Homo sapiens: one gene and its partners. The protein of the gene in region 1 purifies or fractionates together with the protein of each later gene. This does not show direct contact. Each region holds a gene or a part of one and is shown on either strand. Other genes may lie near its edges.

Evidence for each region.
Region 2: the proteins of SCPEP1 (region 1) and FURIN purify together in Homo sapiens (affinity purification with mass spectrometry; one large-scale study listed by BioGRID and IntAct). This does not show direct contact.
Region 3: the proteins of SCPEP1 (region 1) and NCR3LG1 purify together in Homo sapiens (affinity purification with mass spectrometry; one large-scale study listed by BioGRID and IntAct). This does not show direct contact.
Region 4: the proteins of SCPEP1 (region 1) and CCDC85C purify together in Homo sapiens (affinity purification with mass spectrometry; one large-scale study listed by BioGRID and IntAct). This does not show direct contact.

What each region holds. Positions count from the first base shown.
Region 1 is NC_000017.11:57,002,194-57,009,218, reverse strand, and holds the end of SCPEP1 (retinoid-inducible serine carboxypeptidase precursor), read right to left. Parts: intron 3,047-7,025; coding exon 2,984-3,046; 3' UTR 2,451-2,983; downstream 1-2,450. UniProt on the Homo sapiens protein: May be involved in vascular wall and kidney homeostasis.
Region 2 is NC_000015.10:90,872,659-90,880,614, forward strand, and holds part of FURIN (furin isoform 1 preproprotein), read left to right. Parts: intron 1-195; exon of another isoform or gene 196-440; intron 441-2,923; 5' UTR 2,924-3,082; coding exon 3,083-3,259; intron 3,260-3,596; coding exon 3,597-3,695; intron 3,696-3,803; coding exon 3,804-3,899; intron 3,900-4,237; coding exon 4,238-4,366; intron 4,367-4,476; coding exon 4,477-4,553; intron 4,554-4,868; coding exon 4,869-4,957; intron 4,958-5,473; coding exon 5,474-5,646; intron 5,647-6,105; coding exon 6,106-6,318; intron 6,319-6,785; coding exon 6,786-6,886; intron 6,887-7,012; coding exon 7,013-7,116; intron 7,117-7,208; coding exon 7,209-7,326; intron 7,327-7,435; coding exon 7,436-7,615; intron 7,616-7,956. UniProt on the Homo sapiens protein: Ubiquitous endoprotease within constitutive secretory pathways capable of cleavage at the RX(K/R)R consensus motif. Mediates processing of TGFB1, an essential step in TGF-beta-1 activation.
Region 3 is NC_000011.10:17,352,444-17,360,399, reverse strand, and holds part of NCR3LG1 (natural cytotoxicity triggering receptor 3 ligand 1 precursor), read right to left. Parts: exon of another isoform or gene 7,717-7,956; intron 6,936-7,716; exon of another isoform or gene 6,428-6,935; intron 3,750-6,427; coding exon 3,399-3,749; intron 1-3,398. UniProt on the Homo sapiens protein: Triggers NCR3-dependent natural killer cell activation.
Region 4 is NC_000014.9:99,597,658-99,603,482, forward strand, and holds part of CCDC85C (coiled-coil domain-containing protein 85C), read right to left. Parts: coding exon 5,510-5,825; intron 1-5,509. UniProt on the Homo sapiens protein: May play a role in cell-cell adhesion and epithelium development through its interaction with proteins of the beta-catenin family. May play an important role in cortical development, especially in the maintenance of radial glia.

The DNA of each region.
Region 1 (7,025 bases):
TTTTTTCTTTTTGAGACAAGGTCTCACCCTGTCACTCAGGCTGGAGTACAAATATGGCTCGCTGTAGCCTCAACCAACCTGCCAGGCTCAAGTGATTCTCCTACCTCAGCCTCCTACACAGCTGAAACCACAGAGGTGCACCAACATGCTGAGTTAATGTTTTTATTTTCTGTAGATACAGGGTGTTATCATCTTGCTCAAGCTGGTCTTGAACTCCTGGACTCAAGGGATTCTCCCACCTCAGCCTCTCAAAGTGCTGGTATTATAGGCATGAACCACTGTGCCCAGCCTTCTAATCAAGTTTCTTCCAAGTCCCTAAATACCCAGCTAAATCATGAATTGGTGCACTTATTCTTCTGTTCATTTCCCCTTCCAGGGAAAGTGAAGAGCTGAGTGCACTGTTCCAAGTTCTGTCCACTGGGAGGATTTCTCTTCACACCATCTTTCAGGGCTGTCCTGGAGTGTGGCCGTGGTGCCATAGCGGTCCACATTCAGGTGATGCATGCATACTGTGGAGCCCCGTCTGTAAATCAAGCCTGAGAGTTGTCTTCCTTTGTCAACTGATCACAGGGATTCCCTAGGAAGGTAGGGGTGTGGGTTGAGAGAGAATGTTATACAGCAGGAATAAGAGCCCTGGGCAAGTCTAGGAATTTACTACAAGATCTTAGGACAAGACATGATTAACCTGCCCGGACAGCAATGGAAGGGCGGCTTCTAATGGCCAAAAAGGTTTGAGGTCCCCTAGCTTCATCTGTGCAGGTGACTCATCTCAATGTTCAGAATTACATTTCTTCTCAATCAATGCACTAACTTTTAACAGAAGAGACTCTGTGAGGTTGGGAATTCAACTTGCTTTATGATTCACTGCTTTGTTGGATGGTTCACCAAGACTCACAAGGCTCAGTAGCAGGTTATACTAATAGCTAACATTTTTGTAACAAAAGATGCATATCAAAAGCGGCAGGTAAAAACGATACACATGGGTGATGTCCAGGGGTATCCAGCACAGGCTTCTAAGGTTCTTGCTTTCCATGGGCACACTGGAGTTCTTGCCAACAGTGAACCATAGGGACATGTGTAGTCTCTGTCCCAGGAGCCTGTTTTTAGTCTCAGGGTCTGAAGGGGTTAGTCACGTAGACATAACCTGCTGTTAACTGTTTCCTCACAGTCTGCAGGAATAAGCTTTGGGTTTGTTATTTTTTTTAATTAATTAATTTATTTATTTATTTTTGGGACAGAGTCTTGCTCTGTTGCCCAGGCTGGAGTGCAGTGGCGCGATCTCGGCTCACTGCAAGCACTGCCTCCCGGGTTCACGCCATTCTCCTGCCTCAGCCTCCCAACTAGCTGGGACTACAGGTGCCCGCCACCACGCCTGGCTAATTTTGTGTGTGTGTGTGTGTAGAGATGGGGTTTCACCGTGTTAGCCAGGATGGTCTCGATCTCCTGACCTCGTGATCTGCCCGCCTTGGCCTCCCGAAGTGCTGGGATTACAGGCTGGAGCCACCGTGCCTGGCTGTTTTTTTAAATCTCAGCCTTTGGCCAGGCTTGGTGACTCATGCCTGTAATCCCAGCACTTTGGGAGCCCAAGGCAGGTGGATTGCTAGAGCCTGGGAGTTCGAGACCAGCCTGGGCCACATAGTGAGACTCCAACTCTACGAAAAAATTTTAAAAATTAGCTGGATGTGATGGTGCTTGCCTGTGGTACTAGCTACTTGGGAGGCTGGGGCAGGAGGATCATTTGAGGCATGATTGTGCCACTGCACTCTAGCCTGGGTCACAGAGTCTCAATAAATAAATAAATAAAATCTCAGCCCTGCAACTACAAGAGGTGATATTTCTTTCAGACAGTCCTAGAAGCTGTTAGATCCCCTATGCAGATTTTTTTTTCTTTTTGAGATGGGGTCTCTGTCACCCAGGCTGGAGTGAGTGGCTTGATCATGGCTCACTGCAACATCAACCTCCCTGGCTCAAGTGATCCTCCTGCCTCAGCCTCCTGAGTAGCTGGGACTACAGGTGTGTGCCACCATGCTCGGCTAATGTTTTTATTTTTTTTGTAGAAATGGGGTCTCCCTATGTTGCCCAGGCTGTTGTTGAACTCCTGGGCTCAAGCATTCCTCCTGCCTCGACCTCCCAAAGTGCTGGGTTTATAGGTGTGAGCCACGGCATCAAACCTCCTTATGTAGATCTTGAGCTATGAATAAAAAGTTAAAAGTCCTGAGCTAATTATTTTGATTTTAAGGAAATGTGGCAATCCTCTGACTAAATAATTACACTTTTATGAATTTATTCTAAGAAAATAAGGAGGTACAAAAAAATCTAACTATCAGGGTGAATCAACAGAGCACTATGTATAATAGCAACAAACTAGAAATTATTATACTTGTCGGAAACAACTGGGAATTTTGTAAATAAACTAGAGTACAACCATAAAGTAGAATGCTCCACAGCCATTAAAAATGTTAGAGAAGAACATTTATTGACATGAAAAGGTGTTTCAGATATACTGATATGTCAAACAAATAGTAAAACAACATAGAGTAATGATTCATTTTGGTAAAAAATATATATGTATATATAGAAAAAAAAATTCTGCAAGGACATATGCTAAATTGGTAACAGTGCTTACCCCTGGGAAGGGGGTATACAGATGTTGATTTACTCTTTGGGTACCTGTATTTCCCAGTTTTTCTATAAATCACATCATTTGCTTCTGTCATAAGAAAAAATAATATCTATTATCATCCTTTATTTTGATCAAAACAAATCAATTTTTTAAAAAATCTTAGGTTTTTTTAAGAAGCAGAAATAATTTCCAAATTGCCTCCAGAGACAATGATTTTATCCTCTGCAGAAGCTGGTCAGAACCTTCTTGATCACAGCCCCAGTTAGATACAGGGAAGAATGGCGCTTCCTACAGCTTCAGCGGCCTCAGCTCAGCTCTGTGCCCCAAGGCCAAACCAGCTCATCTCCAGCCCCATCCATCCTATTCTTGCTGAGTCACCAGTCTCATCATCTTCAGAGCCATGTCCCCTTGGTCAGAAGGAACCTAGAAAAAAACAACATCTGAGTTAGTGCTCCTGGTGCTATTCCTGGGGCTGGGGTCAGAGGCAACATCCTGAAACCTTGCTCCCAAAAGGGAGCCAGCTCTGTGACAGCAACCTGTGCAGACACCTGGGCACATCCCTGAGAGAGGGTCCTTCCTGAAAATGACTCCTGCACTGGATGAAAGCTCTTCTGGGCCCTGACTGGGCTGGGTGGCAGGGACCTGGAGAAGTCAGCATTTAAGACAAGAACCTTCTACTCCATTTGGAGCTGATCTGTTGATTTCTTGGTAAGGGTCATGCTAATGATACTAGACCTAGCCTGTTCAAGGAAGAAGGAAGATTCTAAACATTTTAAAGGCATCTGTCTAGAAGGGATCCCGGATTGAGAATAGAGAAATGGCTGAGAAGGGAGCTCACAGCAGAGAGCCGCAAATAATAAAAACAAACAGGGCCCTTTGGGTGGCATCCGATTTTCGCAGTTATTCAACTTTCTTTTGTTTTCCCTCAGATTTTTAGAATAAGTCCTTTAAAATTTCCTTCCCACACAGCATCAAAAGGGGGAAGGGCAGAGGCCTCAGTTTCTCCCTACACAGAAGGGGTTGGAGTATATGGTCTCCCCGTTATGTAATTCCCTGGCTCCATGATTCTCTATGGCACACCCATCCTTGACTCTTCTGCCAAGAGTCCCCAGGAGGCACAGGCAAGGTGGGTTATCCTAAAATGTCATTTAATCAATGAAAGGGGAAGTGGTTTGGGGACGACTTAACAACAGTCTCCAAGGGCTATTTTAAGCCTGTCCCCAACTGATCTGTTGTTCTATATGTGACAAACCAACAGGAAATGGGCCTGAACTCTAGTATACAGAGCGCGTGGTTGGCTTGTTCCATGCCTTCCTACCAGCCTCGTCAGGGACTTCTCTCTAGGGCAGGCTGAGCATCCCTCATTGGAAAATCCAAAATGCTCCACAATTCCAGCCTTTTTGAGTGCCACCATGAGGCCACAAGTGGAACATTTCACACCTGCCCCATGGGCGGCTGCATTCAAAATGCAGGCGCACAACACACAGTTTATTTCTGCATCCCCAAGGGGGTTACAGTACAGTAACCTTTTAATCAAAACACAGCATTGTAGGTAGAGACCGAAAGCTGCTGTTGCTTGCTGTTGCTGTTGTCTAGCAGCTGACACAGGTATTCTGGTCATGCTACTGTGCTGCTCAGTTACTCTGAACACACAACTTTTCCACTGTATTAATGGTATGTTGTATTTCTTACTGTGAAGTACTTATGTGTGACTACATGCAAGAAAAAGATTGCTTATCGGCAGCATATAAATTTGGAGTCAGAAATGATATGATGCCTAACAACCACAGATTGGTTGAAGAGCCATGGGTGGCTGAAATAGCCACCCTTTGCTCTCTAATAACTCAGTGCACACAAACTTTGCTTCATGCACAAAATTATTTAAAATATTGTACGAAAGTACCTTCGGTCTATGTGTATAAGGTGTATATGAAACATAAATGAATTCCATTGCCTAGACTTGGGTCCCATCCCCAAGATATCTCATTATGGATATGCAAATATTCCAAAATAAAAAAAAAATTAAAAATCTGAAACATTTCTGGTTCCAAACATCTCAGATAAGGGGTACTCAACCTGTAACAGTGCTTGCTCTAAGACGTTCTAATTTTCTTTCTTTTAGTCAATATTGAAGGTACTCAGATCCTGAGAGCCATAAATAATGCCCTCTCCCTCTGTGCCCTGCTGCCTTGTTTGTTCTCCCTTTAGATTAAGTCTATTTGTTTATTTATTGATTTACTTTTTGAGACAGAGTCTCACTCTGTCACCCAAGCTTTCAGGCTCAATCAATCCTCCCACCTCACTCAGCCTCCAGAGCAGCTGAGACCACAGGCAGGCGCCACCGCGCCCAGTTGATTTTTGTTCTTTTTTGAGACAGAGTCTCACTCTGTTGCCCAGGCTGGAGTGCAGTGGCGCTATCTCGCCAGCTGGATGCAATGGCACTATCTTGGCTCACTGCAACCTCTGCCTCCCAGGTTCAAGCGATTCTCCTGCCTCAGCCTCCTGAGTAGCTGGGATTACAGGTGCCCACCATCATGCCCAGCTAATTTTTGTATTTTTAGTAAAGATAGGGTTTCTCCATGTTAGCCAAGCTGGTCTCATACTCCTGACCTCAGGTGATCCACCTGCCTTCGCCTCCCAAAATGCTGGGATTACAGGTGTCAGCCACCATACCCAGCCTAGATTAAGTGTCTTTTGAGAGTGGGCTGCTTTCTCTGGCTTCTTAAAGGAAGCTACTGTCTCTTCTCCTCACTACTCATTCATTTTCTCCAGTCTTTCCAATCTGGCTTCTGAGCTTGCCACCTCACCAAAATATCTCACCAACGCAGGTGCCAAGGACATCGGTGTAAGCACATCATCACTCACGTTTCAGCCCTTCCCCTGAGTTCTCACTTAGCACTGCGGGCCCCTCCCTGCTTTGGGGATGCCACGCATCCCTGGTCTCCCTTCTCACTTATCTGGCTGCTCCTTTCTCAGTCTCATTTGTAGGCTCTTCTTCTGCCTTCTGTTCTATAGGCAATTCAAACTCAGCTTGTGCAAATTCCCTCCATCGCAAACCACAATGCTGGAGCAGAAACCTGCAAGCCACCCTTCAGTTCTTTTCTACCCCAAATGATTACCAAGTCCTGCCAATTTTCCCTTCTTTACACTTCACCAAATCCATCTACTTTCCTCCTTTCTGGATTTACCTGACAGCCTCATTGATTGGTCTTTGGCCCCAGGCTTGCCCCATGCCCTCTACTGCTAGAATGGTATTTCTTGGACAAATCTGTTAATTTCACTCCTTTGCTTAAAACCCCTGCTTGGTGCCCTACTGTCTGAACTCCTTAGAGTGGTATGAAAATTCCCCCTCTGCAGCCACCTCCCTCCAGTGTCCATTCCAAGTCCTCGCTGTCTGAGGCTCCTGTGGACCTTGTATTCACTGCTCTCCATGCTCCCCACCTCCTCCTCTTTCCTTAAATCACTCCTACGCATCACGTGGGGCACAATCTTCCAGATCTGCATGCCTGGGCAGGGCACCCTTCCCTGGGCCAAGCCAGCTGTTGACAGTCTCCTTGCCTGTCTGTCTCTAGACCACAAGCTCCTTGAGGACAGGGACTGGGCACCACTCACCCTTGTGCTCGCAGTCTCTAGTGCTAATAGCGGAATTTTGTTAGGAAACTCAAAACACTCCCAAGCCCTAAGTATTTCTTTTTTAATTTTTCTTTTTTTTTTTTTTTTTGAGACAGGGTCTCGCTCTGTCACCCAGGCTGGAGTGCAGTGGCATGATCTTGGCTCACTATAGCTTCTAACTTTCAGGCTCAATCAATCTGCCCACCTCACTCAGCCTCCTGAGCAGCTGAGACCACAGGCATGCGCCACCGTGCCCGGTTGATTTTTGTTCTTTTTTGAGACAGAGTCTCACTCTGTTGCCCAGGCTGGAGTGCAGTGGTGCTATCTCGGCTCACTGCAGCCTCCACCTCCCGGGTTCAAGTGATTCTCGTGCTTCAGCCTCCCAAGTAGCTGGGATTACAGACATGTGCTACCACACCTGGTAAATTTTTGTAGAGACAGGGTTTCGCCACGTTGCGAAGGCTGGTCTTGAACTCTTGAGCTCAAGCGATCCACCCGTCTCAGCCTCCCAAAGTGCTGGGATTGCAGGCATGAGCCTCTGTGCCTGGCCTAATTTTCATATTTTTTGTAGAGACAAGGTTTCTCCATGTGGCCCAGGCTGGTCTCAAACTCCTGGGCTCCAGCAATCCACCTGCCTTGGTCTCCCAAAGTGCTGAGATTACAGGCATGAGCCACTGTACCTGGCCCTCGGGCCCTCGTACTTCCTACAAGACCCACCTGGGCAGTGGACAGAGGCATAATAACCGCCTGTGGCTTCCCTCTCAGGATGATTTTTAAGTCTGGAACAAAA
Region 2 (7,956 bases), on another chromosome or scaffold:
CCAAGGAAACTGAGGCCCAGGGAGAGGAAGTGACTTGTTAAGATCATCCAGCAAATAGTGGGCAGGGACTGGGAGCGATAAATTCACGGGAGCCTCCCAGGGCTGGTAACAGGACCCCGCGTGGTGTCTCTGCTAGAGGGAGAGACTGATTGGGTGTCCGAGTGGCCCTCCCGTGGCCTGCTCTGTGGCTGTGTCAGAGCCAGACCCCCAGTGTCTGGGAAACAGCAGTCGGTCCTGGGGTGAGGCGCAATTTGAGTGGCCCAGAGTGGCTCTCTGTGTCAGGAGGTTCTGGTGCTGGAGAAAAGGGCTTTGCCCAAGAACACAGCCAGGAAGAGCACCCACAGCTCTCTCTGGCCACAGCCTGGAACAGAGTCCCATGTGAAACAAGACCATGAGAAATACAGCAAGCCTCCAGGTTTGAGACAAACTGGGACTAGAGGGTGAGTCAGAGTCTGGGATGGGGGTGGGGAGAAACCCATTCATTCATTGTTTTCAGTTCTTACTCTTTTCGGGGATCCTCCCTTGTCCCACATGCTGTGGCAGAGCCGTCTGTGGGGGTCTCATTTTCTGGAAGCCATCCCCACCCCTCACCATGGCTGGGGTTGTTGGATAGAGGGAGGCTGGCCCTCTTTCTTTGGGGGGACTGTTCAGTTGCGCCTGACGCCTGCTTTCTTTCCGAGTGCTGCAAGGTAATTAAATAGTTGGTTAATCACTTTTAACGCCAAACAGCTGCGGCTCCATCTACAGTGTGCTGGAATCTGGGCTAGACCCAGATGAACCCAGCCTCGATTTGGGGGCTCCAGCAGGACTCACAGCACGGTGGTTGGTGGTGGTGGGGGCAGGGGGGTGGTTGCATGACATCTGGACCCAAGAGGCAGCTGTTGTGGCAGCAAGAGAGAGGAGAGAGATGAGGCCCCGTTCCTATATGGCTCTGCTCCCAGGGTCCCACATCCTCTGTTAAATGAGGGACTTGGGGTGGGGGGGGCGGTCCTTCCATCCCCTAGGGCTGGGGCGCCTAGCTGCCCAGCCATTGATCAGGCCAGCTTTCTGGAACCAACCACCCAAAGCACCATGGGGCTGTGGTTCCGAGGCCTGCCCTGGAAGTCCTGTGGAGTCTGCCCGCAGGGATGTGCAGGAGCTGTATTGTAGATGTCTCCTGCCATCAGCTGTCAGGTTATTTTGGTCCAAACTGAAAATACTCCAGGAATTGTGTGTGGAGTACCCCCAGCCTGCAGGGTGGGACTGCAGCAGTCAGGGAGGCCGGTTGTGTCTAAGGGCAGCTTCTGGAGAAGCAAGGAGTTTTCTGTGGTGAGCCTGCCTCTCTAGCTCCCCAGGGCCTACGTGAGCTGGGGTGCCTTCCTTTTGGTATCCGGCAGAGTGGCCTTGGCTATGGAAGTGCTAAGGGCATCCAGGGCCCTGCTGCTGCTCAGGGAGCTTGGCACTGATATGGGATACCCCCAGCAGCACTGCTGGGACCTCCCCTAGCTTCCCCCCCTTCCTCCAGGGCCTTGGCTTCTGGCTAGTCAGGGGCACTATGTGGGGACAGTTATGTGGCCCCGGGCAGAGAGAGGTCCCGCCGTCTGTTTGCTGAAGGAGGAAAAACAACACTCGGACTATTGATTCAGTCTCACCTTGGCGCTCCTGGCTCAGCAGCCAGTGTTTGCCCTGGCTGCCTGGGCTCGGATTACGCAAGGCTGGTGGGCGTGGAGCAAGCAAGGGGGCAGCTGGGGGCCTCCAGGCCCAGGCAGGGCAGGGCTTGGCGGCCCCAGCGTTCCCCAGGAAACTGTAAAAACGAGTCTGGGGCCCTGACTTTGCTGATAGCGGCCATCTCAGCCATAGAGGGAGGTGAAGCCTCTGTGATCTCCACCCCCGCACCCCCTCAGGACATGGCCCCTAAAAGCACCATCCCATTTAGGGTCACCCATTTTCTTCCTAGGAGCTGTGGGGCTTTGCGAATAACTCCCTATGGCTGAATCTGCTTTGCTGAACTAGGAAACCCTAGTGAGTTGTATAGATGCCATTCATTTAAGAACCTTGAAAAGCCAACATCTTATTCCCATGTAAAACATACCTAGGTGATTTGGAGAATACAGTGACACAAAGAAGAAAATAACAATTACTTGTAATTCTCACCATCTTGAGAGAACCACCGTTAACATTTTTTAGCGTGTGTATCCTTCCAGATTTCGCTTTAGTTTGTATAAATATACATGTATAAATAGTTTTTAAAAAATAAAATGGGATTATGTGTACATACTGCTTTATAATGCATCTTCTTTACCTTGATCATGGTGAACATTTATTCATTTGTTGTTTCTGATTTTGAGTGACTCAGGGCTTGATAGTCTTCATCCTGCTTCTTCTGTTACACTTTTTTTTTTTTTTTTTTTTTTGAGAGGGAGTATCGTTCTGTCGCACAGACTGGGAATGCAGTGGCGCGATCTTGGCTCACTGCAACCTCCACCTCCTGGGCTCAAGCAATTCTTGTGCCTCAGCCTCCCAAGTCGCTGGCACTACAAGCACCCGCCACCACACTTGGCTCATGTTTGTATTTTTAGTAGAGACGAGGTTGCACCATGTTGGCCAGGCTGGCCTCGAACTCCTGACCTCAGGTGATCCACCCGCCTCAGCCTCCCAAAGTGCTGGATGACAGAAGTGAGCCACCATGCCTGGCCCTTCTGTTACATTTCTTATATTCTTGCATGGAGAAAGGATTGGGGGGGATTGTGAGGGCATCCATCTGTCCATCTATGTGGCTGGCCTTGGGGGCTAGATTTCTTCTGGGGAGGACTAATTTTTTTACCCTTCTCCCCCAGATCTCATTTCAGGCCCCAATTGAAACTTGGGGTGGGCAGGGCAGCTTTAGTGCGTAGCAGGGGAGGAACTGACCCTCTCTCCCCTTTTCCCCTCTTGTTCCTCTCAGGGTCGGCACTCTTCACCCTCCCGAGCCCTGCCCGTCTCGGCCCCATGCCCCCACCAGTCAGCCCCGGGCCACAGGCAGTGAGCAGGCACCTGGGAGCCGAGGCCCTGTGACCAGGCCAAGGAGACGGGCGCTCCAGGGTCCCAGCCACCTGTCCCCCCCATGGAGCTGAGGCCCTGGTTGCTATGGGTGGTAGCAGCAACAGGAACCTTGGTCCTGCTAGCAGCTGATGCTCAGGGCCAGAAGGTCTTCACCAACACGTGGGCTGTGCGCATCCCTGGAGGCCCAGCGGTGGCCAACAGTGTGGCACGGAAGCATGGGTTCCTCAACCTGGGCCAGGTAGGTGTTCCCCCACAGGACACTGCCAGGGGGTGGGACCAGAGAAGACAGGGATTCTGGGAGCAGGAGCTGTTGGCCTTGTTTGCTCAGGGGCATCTGGGTAGCCGGCATGTTCTGGGTGGCCATGAGCAAAGCACAGGTGGTTCAGGCAAGCAGCATATCCCAGTGAGAGTGAGTCCTCATGGTCCCCGCATTTTGCTGGGTCCCGGACAGGGAGCAGATGCCCCGCACCCCCGACCGTGGCGAGCCTCCCATGAAGCCGTTGTCCACCCCCGTCCCCCGCCTCCCGGGGACTGACAGATGGAAAGCCCAGCTCAGTCTCCCTGCTCTATTGCAGATCTTCGGGGACTATTACCACTTCTGGCATCGAGGAGTGACGAAGCGGTCCCTGTCGCCTCACCGCCCGCGGCACAGCCGGCTGCAGAGGGAGCCTCAAGTGAGTGTGGCCCCAGCCCCCTCCTGCTGCCACCCTCCCCCTCCTGCTCTCAGGAGCCCCTCTCGCCTCCTGCTCCACCCACACCATCTCTCCCTCACTCCCCCACAGGTACAGTGGCTGGAACAGCAGGTGGCAAAGCGACGGACTAAACGGGACGTGTACCAGGAGCCCACAGACCCCAAGTTTCCTCAGCAGTGGTACCTGGTACGTGGCCTTCTTCGCTGCTGGGACCTCCTCCCCAGATGCACCATCCACCCACTATGAGCTCTTGGATGGAGGAGGCTGTCTTCGAGGCCTCCTCTGATTCGTTTCCTTTCCTCCTGCTGGGCAGTCTCTCCTTGGCCCATCCTAATAAGCAAGCCTGGGGGTGGCCCTCCCAGAGTCCTCTACATTCCCATGGAGTCCAGACAGCCAGTGGCGGCCTTTCAGGAGCAGGGATGGTACAGGAGGAGGTTTTACGGGGGCAAAGGGATTCTTCAAGATGCTCCTAGCCTCACAAAACCAATCATGTCTCATAAGTGATGGGGTGGGTGTCTCCACAGTCTGGTGTCACTCAGCGGGACCTGAATGTGAAGGCGGCCTGGGCGCAGGGCTACACAGGGCACGGCATTGTGGTCTCCATTCTGGACGATGGCATCGAGAAGAACCACCCGGACTTGGCAGGCAATTATGTGAGGAAGTCGGGGAGGGAGGCCGTGATCCCTGCTGAGGTGTGTCTAGAGGCTGTCTTGTTCTATCAGTGAGGTCAGCCTTCTCCTGATGGTGGCCAAATCCTTCTTAGGATCCTGGGGCCAGTTTTGATGTCAATGACCAGGACCCTGACCCCCAGCCTCGGTACACACAGATGAATGACAACAGGTAAGAAGTGGCAGGCCCCGGTCTCTGCCTCCCTTCTCCTTTCTTCCACTAAGGAACAGGGCTGAGCCTGGGTGAGATGTGCCTTGCCTAAAAGGCTGAGGCTTTTCCCACAGTCCTGGCCCACCTGGGGCTCTGAGGGAGGGCTCGGTCAGAGTGGAGATGGCCACAGGCCCAGTGGAGTGTGGGAGATGGGGGCTGGGTACTCAGGGGATGATGGGTGTCGGATGTGCGGATCCCTCGTGCTCCTCAGGCCACATCTGCCGGGCCCTGTTCACCCCATTTGTTCTACTCATGCTACGTGCTTGGCCCTGGCAGGCACGGCACACGGTGTGCGGGGGAAGTGGCTGCGGTGGCCAACAACGGTGTCTGTGGTGTAGGTGTGGCCTACAACGCCCGCATTGGAGGTGAGTGTGGGCCTGGGCCACCCTGTCTTCAGGAGGGCCCTTCAGTGGAATTTTTCCCGCCCACTTCCCATCTGGCCAATGCCTGCCACTTTCCCACTGTGGATCCTTTGATCACGTGGCTGTTCCATGGAGGGTTCCCAAAGGGTCAAAGACTGAAAGAGCTGGACCCCTGTGGAGTGAGGGTTTCCTAGCAGGAGTCTCCTGAAATCCTCACGACCCACTGTGAGTCCTCACGTGGCAGATCCTTGATCACCAGGCTCTTTTGGGAACCAGAGACTCTTTCTAGTCCTGAATGTGTGGTTGGGGGCAGGAGGTGTTCTCTTTTTCCTTCTCTGGGTCTTGTCTTTGAAAGGCAGAGGCAAACAGGTAGTTGGGGGTTCAGGGTTTCTCAGCATCAGCCTCCACCCTTCCCTTACTCATCCCCTGGGGTGCAGGGCTGGGTGTGCTCCTTGGGGTGGGGGCCCTGACAGCTGGACCCATGCAGCATCCCTCTTCGTGCCCCCCCTTCACGGCCAGGGGTGCGCATGCTGGATGGCGAGGTGACAGATGCAGTGGAGGCACGCTCGCTGGGCCTGAACCCCAACCACATCCACATCTACAGTGCCAGCTGGGGCCCCGAGGATGACGGCAAGACAGTGGATGGGCCAGCCCGCCTCGCCGAGGAGGCCTTCTTCCGTGGGGTTAGCCAGGTGAGGTGGGGATCTGTCCAGCCCCTGCGGGCAGGTTGGGTGCTGTCTTCCGTACCTATCTTGTGTTTTTTGGTTTGTTTTATTTATTCTCATGTTTAACTTTACACAAAGCATGTTTATTGAAACATTAAGGGACAGAAGAAGAGTAGAGTGCATATACCACTTGGACTTGCCTAATTAAAAAACACATTTTTTTTAGAAATGAGGTCTTGCTGTGTTACCCAGGCTGGTCTCAAACTCCTGGCCTCAAGCGATCCTCCCGCCTTGGCCTCTTGGTCTGATTTTTTGTGTGCCTAGATAGACATATTTGGATACATACTTGATCCACCAGGGATCTCACAGGGGACAGGAGGTTCCCAGAGAATGAGGCTCCAGCCTTCCCAGTTTTCCAGCAGTGTCCTCCTGCCAGCCCTCCCTCAAGTCCCAATCTTGAATGACCCCAGCCCACTCTGTCCACAGGGCCGAGGGGGGCTGGGCTCCATCTTTGTCTGGGCCTCGGGGAACGGGGGCCGGGAACATGACAGCTGCAACTGCGACGGCTACACCAACAGTATCTACACGCTGTCCATCAGCAGCGCCACGCAGTTTGGCAACGTGCCGTGGTACAGCGAGGCCTGCTCGTCCACACTGGCCACGACCTACAGCAGTGGCAACCAGAATGAGAAGCAGATCGTGAGTCTTACCTGGGGGTGGGGGCTGGGGAGATGGGGCTGCTGGCTGGCTCTGTCCAGCACCCTCTTTTGGAGGCTGTCTGCCTCCACCCCCATGTGGCTGGGTGATAGTGGCTCAGGCATCATGCAACATGAACTCTGGGGCTCTGTAGGTTCTTGGAGGCCATGGAGCCATCTCTGAAGACTTTGAAAAGCCTAGACTCTCTCTAAAAACATACTTTGTTCTTATTCATCTCCACCCTCTAGTTGAACCCCCTTATTCCTTTGGAAAATGAGGCCCAGGAGGGGCTCGTCATTAGCATGTCCACGGCAAGTTAGCAAGGCAGCAGCTGGGACCTGGGGTTCTTGGCCCTGGCTCCCCATACCATCTGTGGTGCCCAGGGCCTGTATGCAGAGGGAGGGTAGGCAGGTGGCTCCTCTAGCCCCCTCCACCCATCACAGGCCCCAATATGATTCTCTTCCTGGCAGGTGACGACTGACTTGCGGCAGAAGTGCACGGAGTCTCACACGGGCACCTCAGCCTCTGCCCCCTTAGCAGCCGGCATCATTGCTCTCACCCTGGAGGCCAAGTAAGTGGGTGGGGGCCAGCGGCAACCCTGTCCCTACCAGCACTCTCTGTAGGGCAGCCCTTAGGGCAGCTGGAGAGCTGCTCCCAAAAAAGACTGATCCCCAGCCTCTCCCTTCCTTCTTTGCAGTAAGAACCTCACATGGCGGGACATGCAACACCTGGTGGTACAGACCTCGAAGCCAGCCCACCTCAATGCCAACGACTGGGCCACCAATGGTGTGGGCCGGAAAGGTGAGGGCAGGCTGGCCCGGCAGGCTGGATGTGGAGTTAGGTAGAAGGCACTCTGTGCCTGACAGCTGACCCTACCTTCCCTGTCCCCACAGTGAGCCACTCATATGGCTACGGGCTTTTGGACGCAGGCGCCATGGTGGCCCTGGCCCAGAATTGGACCACAGTGGCCCCCCAGCGGAAGTGCATCATCGACATCCTCACCGAGCCCAAGTGAGGGCTGGACCCAGGCTGGGAGGGGGCCAGTGGGACCTGAGAGTCGCAGGGGGTGCCCGCTGGTCCCTCTGGGCCAGGCTGACCATCATGGTGCTCTCCTGCACAGAGACATCGGGAAACGGCTCGAGGTGCGGAAGACCGTGACCGCGTGCCTGGGCGAGCCCAACCACATCACTCGGCTGGAGCACGCTCAGGCGCGGCTCACCCTGTCCTATAATCGCCGTGGCGACCTGGCCATCCACCTGGTCAGCCCCATGGGCACCCGCTCCACCCTGCTGGCAGCCAGGTGCTTGCTCTGTCCCTGCCCGCCCTGCCCAGCGCCGCCGCCTCTCACAGCCCGCGTGCTTGCCTTTGCTCGCTCACACGGCCCAGGGGGCACTGAGTGCTACTCAGTGGGGCACTCTTGGCATTTTGGGAGGGACAATTTTGTCCTGTGGGACTGTCCCATGTTGCAGGAATCCCTGGCTTGCAACCATTTAATGTCAGTAGTGTGCCCCACCTTGTGCGGTGCCTGTGTACCTTTCTAGAATCCCCCAGTTGAGCACGTCTGGCTCACTGAGAAACAGCCAAGCCAGCAGGCACTTCTGGCCCCATGGGGTTGGTCTGCGTGGGGGAAGGGTGTGTGGC
Region 3 (7,956 bases), on another chromosome or scaffold:
GACTTTTTAAAATTAAGAACTTCTGCTCTACAAAAGACATTGTTAAGAGAATGAAAAGACAAGCCACAGACTGTGAGAAAATATCTGTGAGACATCTATCTGATAAAGGCTTGTATCCAGAATGTACAAAGGACTCTTAAAACACAACAATTTAAAAAATGAGCCCAGTTAAAAAATAGGCAAACAATCTGAACAAACATCTCATCAAAGAAGACATACAATTCCCAGTACTTTGGGAGGCCGAGACACGCAGATCATTTGAGCCCAGGAGTTCAAGACCAGCCTGGGCAACACAGCAAAACCCTATCTCTACAAAAAATACAAAAATTAGCCAGGCATGGTGATGTGCACCTGTAGTCCTAGCTACTTGGGAGGCTGAAGCCTGGGAGAATCACCTGAGCCTGGGAAGTGAGCTGTAATCACACCACTGCACTCCAGCCTGGACAACCAATGAACACACAAAAAAAGAAGACATACGAATGGCAAGTAAGAATATGAAAAGATGTCCAACATTATATCATTAGGGAACTGCTAATTAAAACAACAAATGAGATACCACTATATACTTATTAAAATGGCTAAAATCTGGGCTGGGTATGGTGGTTCATGCCTGTAATCCCAGTACTTTGGGAAGCTGAGGTGGGCAGATCATCTGAGGTCAGGAGTTCAAGACCAGCCTGGCCAACATGGTGAGACCCCATCTCTACTAAAAATACAAAAATTAGCCAGGCGTGGTGGCGGGCACCTGTAATCCTAGTTACCTGGGAGGCTAAGGCAGGAGAATCGCTTAAACCTGGGAGGTGGAGGTTGCAGTAAGCCAAGGTCACACCACTGCACTCCGGCCTGGGCAACAGAGCAAGACTGTCTCAAAAAAAAAATCTCAAAAAAAAAAAAAAAAGGAATTGCCAAAAAGCACTGTACTCTAGTAGATAAAGTTGTTTCTTATCGGAGTACAGGTTAATAATTAATTCAATAAACAGAGGATGGTGGGTACAGGTTTCTCACTGTTGGAGTGGGAGTTTACAGATGAGCAAGAGAAGGAAACTAGAATGATCTATGTGGTGATGGACTAAAGTTGGAGACATCAGTAAGAACAAATGTTTAATGTAATATAGGTACAGATGGTTACACATAGAAATATTTGTAGATATGTGTATATGCAGAGGTTAGTATGCATACATGTATTTCTTTGCTCTGTTGGCTGAGAGGGTCTAGAATCAATGATACCTCAGCAGCAAAAAGTACACTTACTGTCCAGGTCTTGGTTTCTAAGATCACTTTCCAATAAAAGGAACCAAGGTTTCTTGGAGTATTGGTTGGTTCTAGGACTAGAACCAGGAAATATACAAGAGAGGAAATATACAAGATGAGTCTGGAGCATCTTATAGTGCCAAAATGTAAAAAGTGCTTAAAATCAAACAAAATTCTTGATATGAATTTGCCAAAAATTAAATAAAACAAAAAATAAAATAATAAAACAAAACAAAATCTTACAATGATTGGGGTATGTCAATGTGACACAAGAGCCAAGTGAATGAGCTCCCCGTGGCCAAAGCTGGAAAAATTTGAGAAAAAATAAAGTAGTATTGCATTATAACACAAAGTATAAAATAAATATCCTTGAGTCCTTATTGATATCAATGATTGAATAAAGTCATAAATGGGAGAAAAGAGATAAATCTCCCATGCAGAAGAATTCTTAAAAAAATTATGTAGATACTCCACCTCCAAGGAGGAAGAACATAAGTAACCCCCAACCTTAAGTGTGGGCTGCACAGAGTGACTTCCTTTCAAAGAGTACAGTATGAAAATAGGAGGAAGAGTAACTTTTCAGTAGAGAAACCAGACAAACACTACTTCAACTAGATGGTCAAGGTCAACATCAACAGTCATAAGTCATGTGATTTGATGTGATGAAAATGGCAGTTTACCTCTGCGATGTTCCTCCAAAAACCCATAACCCCAAGTCCAATTATGAGGAAAACAGCAGACAAATCCTAACTTAGTGACATCCTGCAATATACCTGACCAATACCCTCACCAAACTGTCAAGGACATCAAAAATAAGGTCTAAGAAATTGTCACAGCAAAAAGGAGCCTAAGAACATATAACAATTAAATGCAATGTGGTATTCTGACGGGATCCTGGAGCAGGAAAAGGACATTAGGTAAAAACTAAGGAAATATGAATAAATTACACACTTTCATTATAGTAAAATGTCAATATGGGTTCATTAATTATATCAAGGTACCATACGAATACAAGATGTTAATAACAGGGGAAATGGTATGCAGGGCGTGAGTGATATGAGAACTCTCATACTATTTTTGCAATGTTTCTGTAAATCTAAAACTGTCCTTAAAAAAAGTCTATTAATGTCTTTAAAAGCCACTGTTGGCCAGGCATGGTAGTTCATCCCTGTAATGCCAGCACATTGAGAGGCCCGGGCACAAGGATCTCTTGAGGCCAGAAGTTGGAGACGAGCCTGGGCAACACAAGGCCCCATCTCTACAAAAATGTAAAAATTCGCCAGGCATGGTGGCATGCAACCGAGGTCCTAGCTACTCAGGAGGCTGAGGCAGGGGGATCACTTGAGCCCTGGAGTTTGAGGTTACAGTGAGCTATGATTGTGCCATGCTCTCCAGCCTGGGCAACAGAGGGAGACCCTGTCTCCTATGTAGACCCTTTATATAGATATATAAAGCCTAGAAGAACAGTGGCTATATATATACGGCCACTGTCAGTTGGCCGTATATATAGCCACTGTCACTGTTATTCCTCTGTCAGTTGCAGAGGAAGTGAATCCTAATTAATATGCCTCTCACTCCCAAAATTACTACGGACAAAACATTCAAAGTCTTATGTACAATTATGGAGGGCCCATGCTGGGCTGAATTATGTCCTCCTAAAATTCTTATGTCCTCCCAGAATTCCCAGTATCTCTGAATGTGACTGTATTTAGAGATAGGTTCTTTAAAGAGGTAATTAAGTTAAAAATGGGGTTATTAGGATGGGCTCTGATCCAATATGATTGGTATCCTTATAAGAAGAGGAAATTAGGACACAGATATAGGCACAAAGGAAAGACCATGTGAAGACACAGGGAGAAGATGGCCAGAGAAGAGAGGCCTCAGAAGAAACCAATCCTGCTGATGTCTTCATCTCAGACTTCTAGCCTTCCAAAAGTGTGAAAAATAAACATCTGTTGTTTAAAGGCATCCAGTCAATGGTATTTTGTTATGGCAGCCTTAGCAAACTAATACAGCCACCAAGCTCATCCATGTATTATCAGACCATTTTATAATACAGGAAAGTGGAGCTCAAAGAGGTGTGTGGGTTTTGTTGTTGCTAACCCCAACACCATGGGAACTGTAGGGCACTGCCCCGAGACACTCACCCACAACTTCAAGCTGGACTGTTCCCTGTGCCTTCAGAGGGGTGACCACCACCTCACATCGGTACTCTCCTGCTTCCTCCAGCTGGATTCCAGGCAGCCGCAGTGAGGCGTCCCCACTCTTCAGCCTCCATGGAGACACAATGGCTCCAGGTCGGAATGCCTCTTGGTGATCTCCAAAAAATTCAAAGACTTTGACTTCTTTGTCAAACGTCAGACTCTTCCAAAACCAGGTGATACCCATAGACGTGATGTTGAGGGGTTGGGAATAAAAGATATTGCAGAATATGGTGACATTGTCATTCAGGGGTGTGATCTGAGTCCCCCCTGCCATCATCTCTACTTTCAGATCACCTGTGGCAATAAGAGGACACAATGTTCAGTTTACCAATGTATGAACATCTTTTTGAGATGTGCTATGGACTGAATGCTTGAGTCCTCCAAAATTCATATGGAGGCCTGACCCCCAGTGTGATGGTATCTGGAGGCAGGGCCTTTGGGAAGCGATTAGGTCATAAGAGGAAAGTCCTCACGAATGGGATTAGTGCCCTTACAAGAAAAGACATGAGGCCAGGCACGGTGGCTCATGCCTGTAATCCCAGCACTTTGGGAGGCCCAGGCAGGCAGGTCATGAGGTCAGGAGATTGAGACCATCCTGGCTAACATGGTGAAGCCCCATCTCTACTAAAAATACAAAAAATTAGCCAGGCGTGGTGGTGCACACCTGTAATCCCAGCTACTCGGGAGGCTAAGGCAGGAGAATTGCTTGAACCCAGGAGGCAGGGGTTGCAGTGAGCTGAGATCATGCCACTGCACTCCAGCCTGGGTGACAGAGCGACACTCTGTCTCAAAAAAAAAAAAAAAAAAAGAAAGAAAGAAAAGAAAAGAAAAAGACAAGACATGAAGCTGGGCCTGGTGGTTCACACCTATAATCCCAGCACTCCCAGAGTCTGAGGCCAGAGGATCGTTTGAGCCCAGGTGTTCCAGACCAGACTAGGCAATATAATGGGACCTTGTCTCTACAAAAAAATAAAAATAAATTAGCCCAGCATGGTGGTTAGCACTTGTAGTCCCAGCTACTTGGGAGGCTGAGGTGAGAGGATCCCTTGTGCCCAGAAGTTCAAGGCTGCAGTCAGCCGTGATAATGCCATTGCACTCTAGCCCGAGTGACAGAGTGAGACTCTGTCTCAAAAACAAACAAATAAATAAATAAATAAGAAAAGACATGACAGAGAGATATGTCTCTCTCCACCACGTAAAGATACAGCAAGAAGGTATCCTTCTATAAACTAGAAATGAGGCTCTCACCAGAAACCAGATCATCCACACTTTCCTCTTGGACTTCCCAGCCTCCAGAATCATGAGAAATAAATTTCTGTTTAAGCCACACAGTATATATCTGTTATGGTAGCCTGGCAAGACTAAGACAGGACATTTTTCCATTTCATTTATTTAGATTTTAAATTTCTTTCAGCAATATTTTACAGTTTCCAGAGTATATATTTTCTGTTTCTTTCGTTAAATTTACTCATAAGTATTTTATCTTTTGATGCTATTGTAAAGAGAATTTTCTCTTTTTTTTTTGATGTTTTCCTATTTATTTATTTAGAGACAGGGTCTCGCTGTGTCACCCAAGCTGGAGTGCAGTGGTGCTATCACTGCTCACTGCAGCCTCCACCTCCTGGGCTCAAGTGATCCTCCTGTCTCAGCCTCCCAAGTAGTTGGGACTACAGGCACATGCCACCATGCTCAGCTAATTTTTTCATTTTTTGTAGAGATGGAGTCTTACTAAGTTGCCCAGACTGGTCTCTAACTCCTGGGCTCAAGCAATCCTCTCATTGCCTCCTCAAGTATTGGGATTACAGGTATGAGCCACTGCGACTGGCTAGATGTTTTCCATTTTAGAACAGTAGGTTGCTAGCAAGTTTACGCTTATACCTATTCCAACAAAAAGTGCAAGGACAGTTCAAAATATTACATTTGCTATTTCAAAGAAGAGTACAACTCCAAAGAAGTCAGACTCATTACTAACAATGCAGAGCTAGACATCTATATTTAGATAAATGTCAGAAACCGAATTCCCCTTGTTGCCATCAAACATGTCCTTTCATTAGTCACATCCAACATATCTAAATAAAGTTTTCAAAATTAATGTTAACAAAAATGTATCCAAAAACCTGCCAACTTACTCAAAGATTTGTGCAAGTCTATTTTTTAAAATAATACATTAGGGAAACGCGGTGACAAGCTTTCTGTTCTATGTATCAAAGCAAAAACAGACTTGACCTACAAAATGAAGATAGGGTCAACTGTAACCAAAAAAACAGTATGCTTCCCCCTGGTGGCCAACCAAGAAATGGAGAAACCAAGGATATGAAACAGCCAGGCCACCTAGTTGTATTGTCACTCTTAAAAACGAAAAGTGACTACCAAAAAAAAAAAAAAAAAAAAAAAAAAAAGAAGAAGAATTGGGGGGTCGGAGGGAGAAGGGAAAATATCAAAAACACTAACATGTGCTTAAAAGGAATACAAACCTGAGTGCCAGACTACATAAATTTAGAAGATTTAAATCAACAAATCAAAATTTAGAAGGCAAATTTGGGAAACCTCGTCTATTTTCAGAGCGCCCAAGCGCTCACCCAGGACCTCCATGTATTTTCATTTAAAGGTACAGAGTGTAGTACCTTAACAGCTTAACAGCATTCGCCTTTTTCAAGGACTAGATCCTTGGAATTTTCTGCAGTCTTGTTTCCAAGGAAAAGCATTTATGCATTTATCTTTTCAAATCAACTAGTGGTATAACCTACATAGAGAACCTCCAGTTCTAGAGCTCTCCAACTAGGGAGGACTGTTAACTACAGCTTTACAAATTGCTCTTTTCAACTTCATTTCTGAAATAAAACCTAACGTTCTTTAAAACATTTTCTATATCAACAACCTTTAAAGACATTCTCATACAAAGACGGGCTAGAATCTCTTGCATTAAAATCTGACGAATTCCTTTGTATGACTGGATTTTTTTTTTCTTGTACCACTTTAAATTTGCTTCCACGCAGAATAGCAGCCAGGCAAACAGATGCTCCATCCTAAGGTGTAGGAATTTCTTGTAGGCGGAAATGATTTGTTAGGCGAAAGCTTCCGAAACGGTTTTCCATTTCACAGTCTCTTCCGGTGCCAAAGTCCAGCACCAACGCCTGGTTCTGGGGTCCGACCCTCATGCAGCCGCCGCCGCGCTCCTCGTGGCTGGACGAGCCGGAACTAGCTTCCTCCAGGAGCTGCTGCTGCTGCTGCCGTCACTGGGCGCCGCCGCACAGCCAAACGGCGTTCCTCCCTCTCCGCTTCCCTGAGAACTCGCGGCCCTTCTCCACCACCACCAGCATCCGCGGGGACCGAGACCGGACGAAAGTGGCGGGGACCCAAGGCCCCTGAGGAGGGGGCGCCGGGCCCGGGAGGGGGCGCGGGACGGGCATGGGACCGGGTGGGCGCGGCGGCAGCCCACTGGCGCCACTTCGAGCTCGAGGAGACCCAGACTGATAGAGCGCGGAGGCGTTTCCAGACCGCAGCGACAGGCGTTTCCAGACCGCAGTGACAGGCGTTTCAAGTCCGCAGCGCGGAGACAAGCGCAATTTTGGCTTTCCACTTCACCGCCCACACTTCACTCGGAACTGTCTTATTTTCACATTGCTTATTGCAAATGTATAGAAATACTATTCACTCGTTTTTATTTCCACTTCCCTCTCCCATCGGGCAGCCATTCTAAGGTGTTTAACATGTAATTTTTGTTCTCTTTAAGGCTGTATCTTCTGTTTCTCAAACTGTGGAAATGGTATTGCATTGTATGTCCACTGTTTACTTGGCTCTACGCCTTCAACATCCGTTCACGCTGCTCGGCAAGCAGCAAGGGCGTGGTGTGAAGCTGCCGCCAAGGTCTCCACGGTGAGGTCCACACGCGGCTCTCCTCCACCTGCAGTGACTCGGGGCGCCCAGAGCGCGCCTCCGGGATTCCTACATTCCACCTCCACCACCCGGCACCCAGGAGCGTATTTTGGCCAGCCTAGTAAGGGTCAAGCAGCATCTTGTTGTTTAATTGCCATTCTTCTAGTTAGAAATGAGTTTAAATATCTCTACATACGCGTTTCAGCCTTTTAGTCTCCTGTTTAAGTTAACGCAGAACACGCCCATACGAGTTCCCAAAAAAGCAAGAGAACGTTTGAAGGTCACCACAAGATCAAAACACTCCCCTCCCTCTCTCAGTAAAGACCTAACTTAGCAAAGCCAGGAGGACCCACTGATATGCGGATGAATGATTTTTCCAATTTACCGATTCCCTGATTTTCTTCTCTCCTCCGGCCCCTCGGATGATGCGAGAGAGGCGCCAAATACCGAGGCACCAAACGCGCGACATCCAAGGAAGCACCGTTTCCGCTCTCACAGGTGTCGACCCTGCACAGGGCAGGCCTTCAATGTAAACCTGTTGCATCGGGGACTCCGCTTCTCACAAAGGAGGGACGCTTGAAAATAGAGCCCCCAGGCCGGGCGCGGGGGCTCACGCCTGTAATCC
Region 4 (5,825 bases), on another chromosome or scaffold:
CTCCCCACACACATCCTGGGTCCACCTTGCAGGCCCCGGATTCTCAATGCCATGCTCCAGACCCCACTTCCAAACCTTAGCCATTCTTATTCCTGCCTGGAATGCTGGCTCCCTCCATTCAACTAGATGAGGACTCAGCTGCCTCCGACCCTACACTGGGTACCAGCGTGTGTCAGGGGATCTCCCACTCCCACCCAGGGAAGGCAAATCCGCAGAGGCCAGGAAATAATGAAAGGACATGGAACCCATCCTTTAAGGCCCAGTTCTAGGATCGAGACATTATTAGCCTCAGGATATAGATGAAGAAACTGAGGCTTAGAGGTTCAGTAAGCTGCCACGGCCATAAAGCAGGTGGCAAAGCCAAGATTCACCCAGGGCTCTCTGACCCTGGAGGCAGATCACTAACCAGAGGGCTACATGCCCCTCGGCATGCGGGGTGCCGAGCGCTGCAGCGGGAGATGGGGCCTTCGCACATCAGGGGCTGCCACCCGCCAGAGGCTACACGTATCACTCACTACACACCCTCCTCCCTCAACCCAAAGGTTAGTAACATTTTCCCACTTGGCAAAAGAGAAAACAGAGGCCCATGGAGGCTCAGGAACTTGCTTAACAGACTTCCAATTCTCTGCGCAAATGAAGGCAACAAGCATGGATTGGAAAATCCCCACCGGCGGAAAACAGATTAGGAGCAACCACTGATTTCCTTCTGTATCACGTGCTGGTCCTGGGAACTCAGAGGCCAGGCCTGAGCAAGAGGTCTGGTGGGGCGACTGCTGCGGTGGCAAGCCAGCCTCGTGCAGAGAAGTGAGGGAAGGAGAAACCAAGAGATGGGGAGCCACAGCCATCGTAGGGAAGGTGGCCCACCCTGCACCGCCTTCCCCCACTCCTCCATGCCAGGACACAGGGAGACAGGAATGAGGCCCCGGGCCTGGCATCCTGGGAGGAGGTGCCCTGTCTCTGTGGCAGAGGTCACCGCTCCCCTGGAACTCTCTGGGCAGCAGGCACAGGGCCATGGGCTCAGAATTCTGACACAGGAGACCCAAGACGCATCCCAGGCCCCCCAATCAGCCCCACAGGACCTAGAGCAAGTCACCGCACCACCACTCCAAGCCCTGATTTCCCCATCTAAGATATGGAGATGCTAAGGTCTCCCTCCTGGGACCATTTGGAAGCTCTGAACAGAATGGAATTGGGACTGGGATGCTGTTTGTGGCAAACTGTGAAGCACTGGGCACAGTTTACCCACCCCTGGGTCACCTGCCTGGGAGCCTCTCAAGGCCAGCCCTCCTTTCTGAGGCCCAGCATCCCAAGGCCATTGATGGATCCCTTGGGACAGGCTGGGGAAGGAGGGGGAAAGGCTTATCTAACCCACCCCATTGTCTTCACTGACCTTTGTTCCTGAGCTTGGCTGGGTTTAGGAAAAGCAGCCTTATTAGCCGAGCTGCTGCACAGAAAAGACCTATTCAGAGTTAGCGTGCTCTGTCTTTTTCTAAAGGCCCAGACCACCCCGTTCCATCCTCCCTCTTAAACCAACAAAAACACAAGCAGGAGAACAAACCTGTCTCATTTTGAGAAGCTCAAAATTTTAATCCGAACTTTAAAAAGTAAATGGGGCTCATGCACAGGCTTGCTAGAATCCTAGTTCCTCCAGGTTGGCTAAAGGGGAGTGGACCGTGGAGGAGCAGGTTATCAGGGGAGGGAAGGAAATGCCTGGCAATGGGCAGGAGGGGGGCATGGTGCCTGTCGTGGGGCACAGGAGACAGGCGGAGGGGCAGCTGGAAAAAGAACTGAAAATTCTTTTGTTTGAAAATCCTATCAGTTCATGAAGGAGAACCTGACTTTCTGGTGTTGGGGTTTACCTGTCTCAGTGTGCCACACTGGACTAGAGCAACGCACAGCCCAGTCCCAAGTCCAGTCAGCCCAGACCAGACCTCTACCAAAGGCAGCCAAGGCCAGGTGCAGTGGCTCACGTCTGTAATCCCAACACTTTGGGAGGCCAAGGCAGGAGGACTGCTTGAACCCAGGTGTTCGAGACCAGCCTGGGCAACATAGTGAGATCCAGTCTCTACAAAAAATTCAAAAATTATCTGGGCATGGTAGCACACATCCCAGGAGGCCGAGGCAAGAGGATTACTTGAGCCCAGGAGGTTGAGGTTGCCGCGAGCCATGATGGTGCCATTGCACTCTAGCCTGGGTGACCAGAGAGACCCTGTCTCTAAATAAATAATAAATAAATAAATAAGCAGCCAAGGAGAAAAGCCTATTTGCATGTACATACACAATACACAGGCCCACCAGGCCAGCCTCAGCCAGGGCTGCCTTGCATACAGATGGGCCACCTCCCACCTCAGCCACTAGAGTCTGCCCAGGGCACCCAGCAGGGCTGCAACTGCCACCAGCTCCCCAGAAAGGACAGCAGGGCCACTGTCCTCACTAGCTCATCAGCAAGTGCTGCCACACAAGAGGCTCAGATGCAAACATTCAGGTGAGCTGTCTAAGCAGCAAGCACTTTTGAAGAGGAAACTGAGGTCTGTTGGGAGAGCCCCAAGGACCCTAACAACAGGAGAAACCTACTGTGTGTAGATCCTGACCTCACTCAACCTTGTGTGAATAATGGGGCACTCTGGGTTCTGTCCATCTTACAGAAGAGGAGCACAGAGAGGCTTGGCCAGTTAATAACTTGCCCAGTATACATGGAGGAGCTGAGATTCAAACTCAAGTCACCCTGAGCCTCTGGGTAACGGGGTTATCAGCCATCTGCTCAATGGTCACTGATAAGGAAGTGACACTTCCCAGCATGGGAGAAAGAGGGCAAACCTGGGTCAGGAATCAAGAATAGGGAGTCACCAGTGTCCCCTGATTAACAGTAACAGCAAACATGACAACAGACCAAGGGCACAACAGATTCAGACCCAAGGCCTGAACACGAGATGATCATGGCAGCAAACCCACCCAGGACAGGTACTTCCAATGTCAGCCACCTTCCCAGACAAGGCTAGGAACCCCTCTAAGCCTCCACTTGCTTGTCTGTCAAATGGGGATAATACTGCTTCCCCAGGGTTCCTGTGAGAAGAAGCAAAGACCAAACACATAAGGCGCAAGCCTGGTGTCTGACCCCACTTTAGACACCACCCAGACAGAGACTCATTATCTCCCTCAGCTCAGGCCCAATCTTTGCTCAATTTAAAGTTACAAGTCCCAGAATAGAAAAGCCCAGTTTCACCAGGTGAGGTGGCTCATGGCTCTAATCACAGCTACTTGGGAGGCTGAGCTGGGAGGATCACTTAAGCCTGGGAGGTTGAGGCTGTAGTGAGCCATGAGTGTTCCATTGCACTCTAGCCTGGGTGACAGAGTGACACCCTGTCTCGAAAAAAGGGAAAAAAGAAAGAAAGAACAGCTCAGTTTCTAAGAGAAGGGCCTTTCCTGGTTTCCAAGCCTTCCATTTACATTAGTGGGACCACATCCCAAGGCCACACATGGCTTTAAGAGACAAAACTAAATAATAATAATTCCATCTGTAACCGAAATTTGTAATAATAATGCTGAATTTTCATTTCACCCCAAAGCAAGGTTTGCTGCCACAACATTTGCAGCAGTCCTGTGCTAAGTGGGCTTGGGGGAGGATGGGTTCTGTGGGAAACCCTATACTTCAACCTCCCACTGACCCCCAGTGGGGTGGAAAACTCAGTGTAGCCTAGTCCTCCACTCCTGTATTATTCACTGTCGCAGCTGACATGCTGAGCCAGACTGGGGCCGCATCTCCTTGCCCAAAACTCGACAGAGCCTTTCCTGCAAGTATGCTCTAAACACTCCAGCCCTCCAGTGTCCTGCAGAGAGGCACTCTTGCCAAGTGTCATTGATGACGCAGCTGAAAACCAGAAACATTTCACTTTCCAGCCACGAGACTGCAGCAATCTGCTCTTTGGACTGCACTTAGGGAAACCGAGGCCCAGATAACTGACCCCTCAAAAGCCCCCAGGACGGCAAAATCAAAGGGGCTGAGGTGCTCTGAACAGCCCCAGCAAATTAAACCACCTAACTTTGCGCTACTCCCACTGCCCTGAAGCAGCCTGTGGTGGGAGGTGGGGGTGGATACAGTGTTACAAAGAGAAACCTGAGTTGTAGCCATAGATTGCTAATCAGTAACAAAATATCCCTCTAAACCCAGTCCTGCCTTGAACCCACAGGCTCAGGATGGTAAATAAAGGAAAAACATGCTGCACTGCCCCTGCCCCACCTCCATGGGTATGTCTCCCACCCCAGCCCCCACCCCAACACGTCTGCAGAGGCCACTTGGCCACCAAACTAAGGAGAAAACGTCCCTCCCCAGCTCAGGCTGAGGGGTTCTGGGGAGGGCAGTTATTGCAGGCTTAGACACACTTTCTCTGAATTAGGAAAGGCTTTAAAGGGAACCAGAAAGAGCTGTTCATTCTCCACCTTCAGGCAAAAAGTTCAGGCAGTTGCAACTACCAGCAGAACTGGAAGCCAAGCTACCAAAAAACGTGGAAGAACAGGGAGGCCCCGGATCCACCAGCGAGGAGGAGAAAGCTGGCAGGGAGCAGAAGGGCTGAGCAGGGGGCTGGGAGAGGGAGCAGGCTGCAAGCTCCCACAGCCCCAAGCTGGGGCCACCCTCTGCACTGGGCGCAGCAGTAACATGGGCGTAGAAGACAGAAGCTGACAGAGGCCAAAGTTCCTCCCACCCACACCCTGGTCACGGATGACCACGGCACTTCCTGTAAGGCGATCAACAGTTTATAAATCCCTTCAGAAGGTTTATCTCCACCTCAAACCCACGAGGCAGAGGTCATCATCTCCATTTCACAGACAAAGAAACTGAGGCACACAGAGGAGAAAAGCTAGAATCCGTTCCAAATACATCTCCCTCGGGAAAGTCTTAGAGTCTCGGCTGAGAAAGGTCCCAGGACTAGAAGGGCGGAATTTATGGCAAACAAGAAAGGCTCTGAGCCCCAGGCCTCTCCCCAACTGCCTCTGGGTCTCAAGCGGCTGCCTGTGCACCTTCCCAATCCCCACACCCCACTGCAGAACTCCAGCCACCGCACACACGTGGACGCTGCTTGGTTTGGAGGACACCTGTTGCTGCAAGAGGGGAAATTCACTTGCGCTCAAGGGGCCTTGTATCCTTTGCTGTTTAGAACTTCCCGCTACTAGGCAAGGATTTCCAAGGCTGGGATGAGGCGCCCACCGCCAGCCCAGCAGTGACAGACCCTAATTTTGGCAACTACACCCGCTAGAAACTTTTCTGGGACCGGACCGGCAGCAGGTTCTGAGCTGGACAAAAAGACGCTCCACCACTGAACCGGCCCACCACCGCCCAAAGCCCCACTTTGGGTGAGTGCGGGATCCCCTGGCCCAGGATCCATGACAGCTGGAGGAGTCTGGAGTGGCGGCCGCATGAGTGGGACAGCCAGGGACCACCTCCTCTCGCCGCAGCCTGGGAAAAGGGCTGCAGCCAGGGAGACCCGCGCTGCCCGGCCCGTGTAGTCCTTACCGTGCAGGCCGTTGGGGATGCTGCGGTGGTGCGGCGGCGCCGACAAGTCGTCCAGGGACCGACGTGTGGCTCCTGCCTTGCCGTCGGGGGCCTTGTGCGGCCCGGGGGGCAGCAGCGGGGGTGGGACGTGGTGGTGGTGGTCGGGGCTGCCGCCGCTGCCCGCGCTGGACGTACTGCTGCCGTCGCCCACGTCGCGGGCCCCCGCGCCGGGCGCGCCACCCGACAGCGGCCCGCTCAGGCTGGCCTGGCTGTCGATGGAGCTGCGGGAGCCGGCGCCGCCCCCGCCGCCGCCGCCACCGCTTGCGGCCCCCGTCGC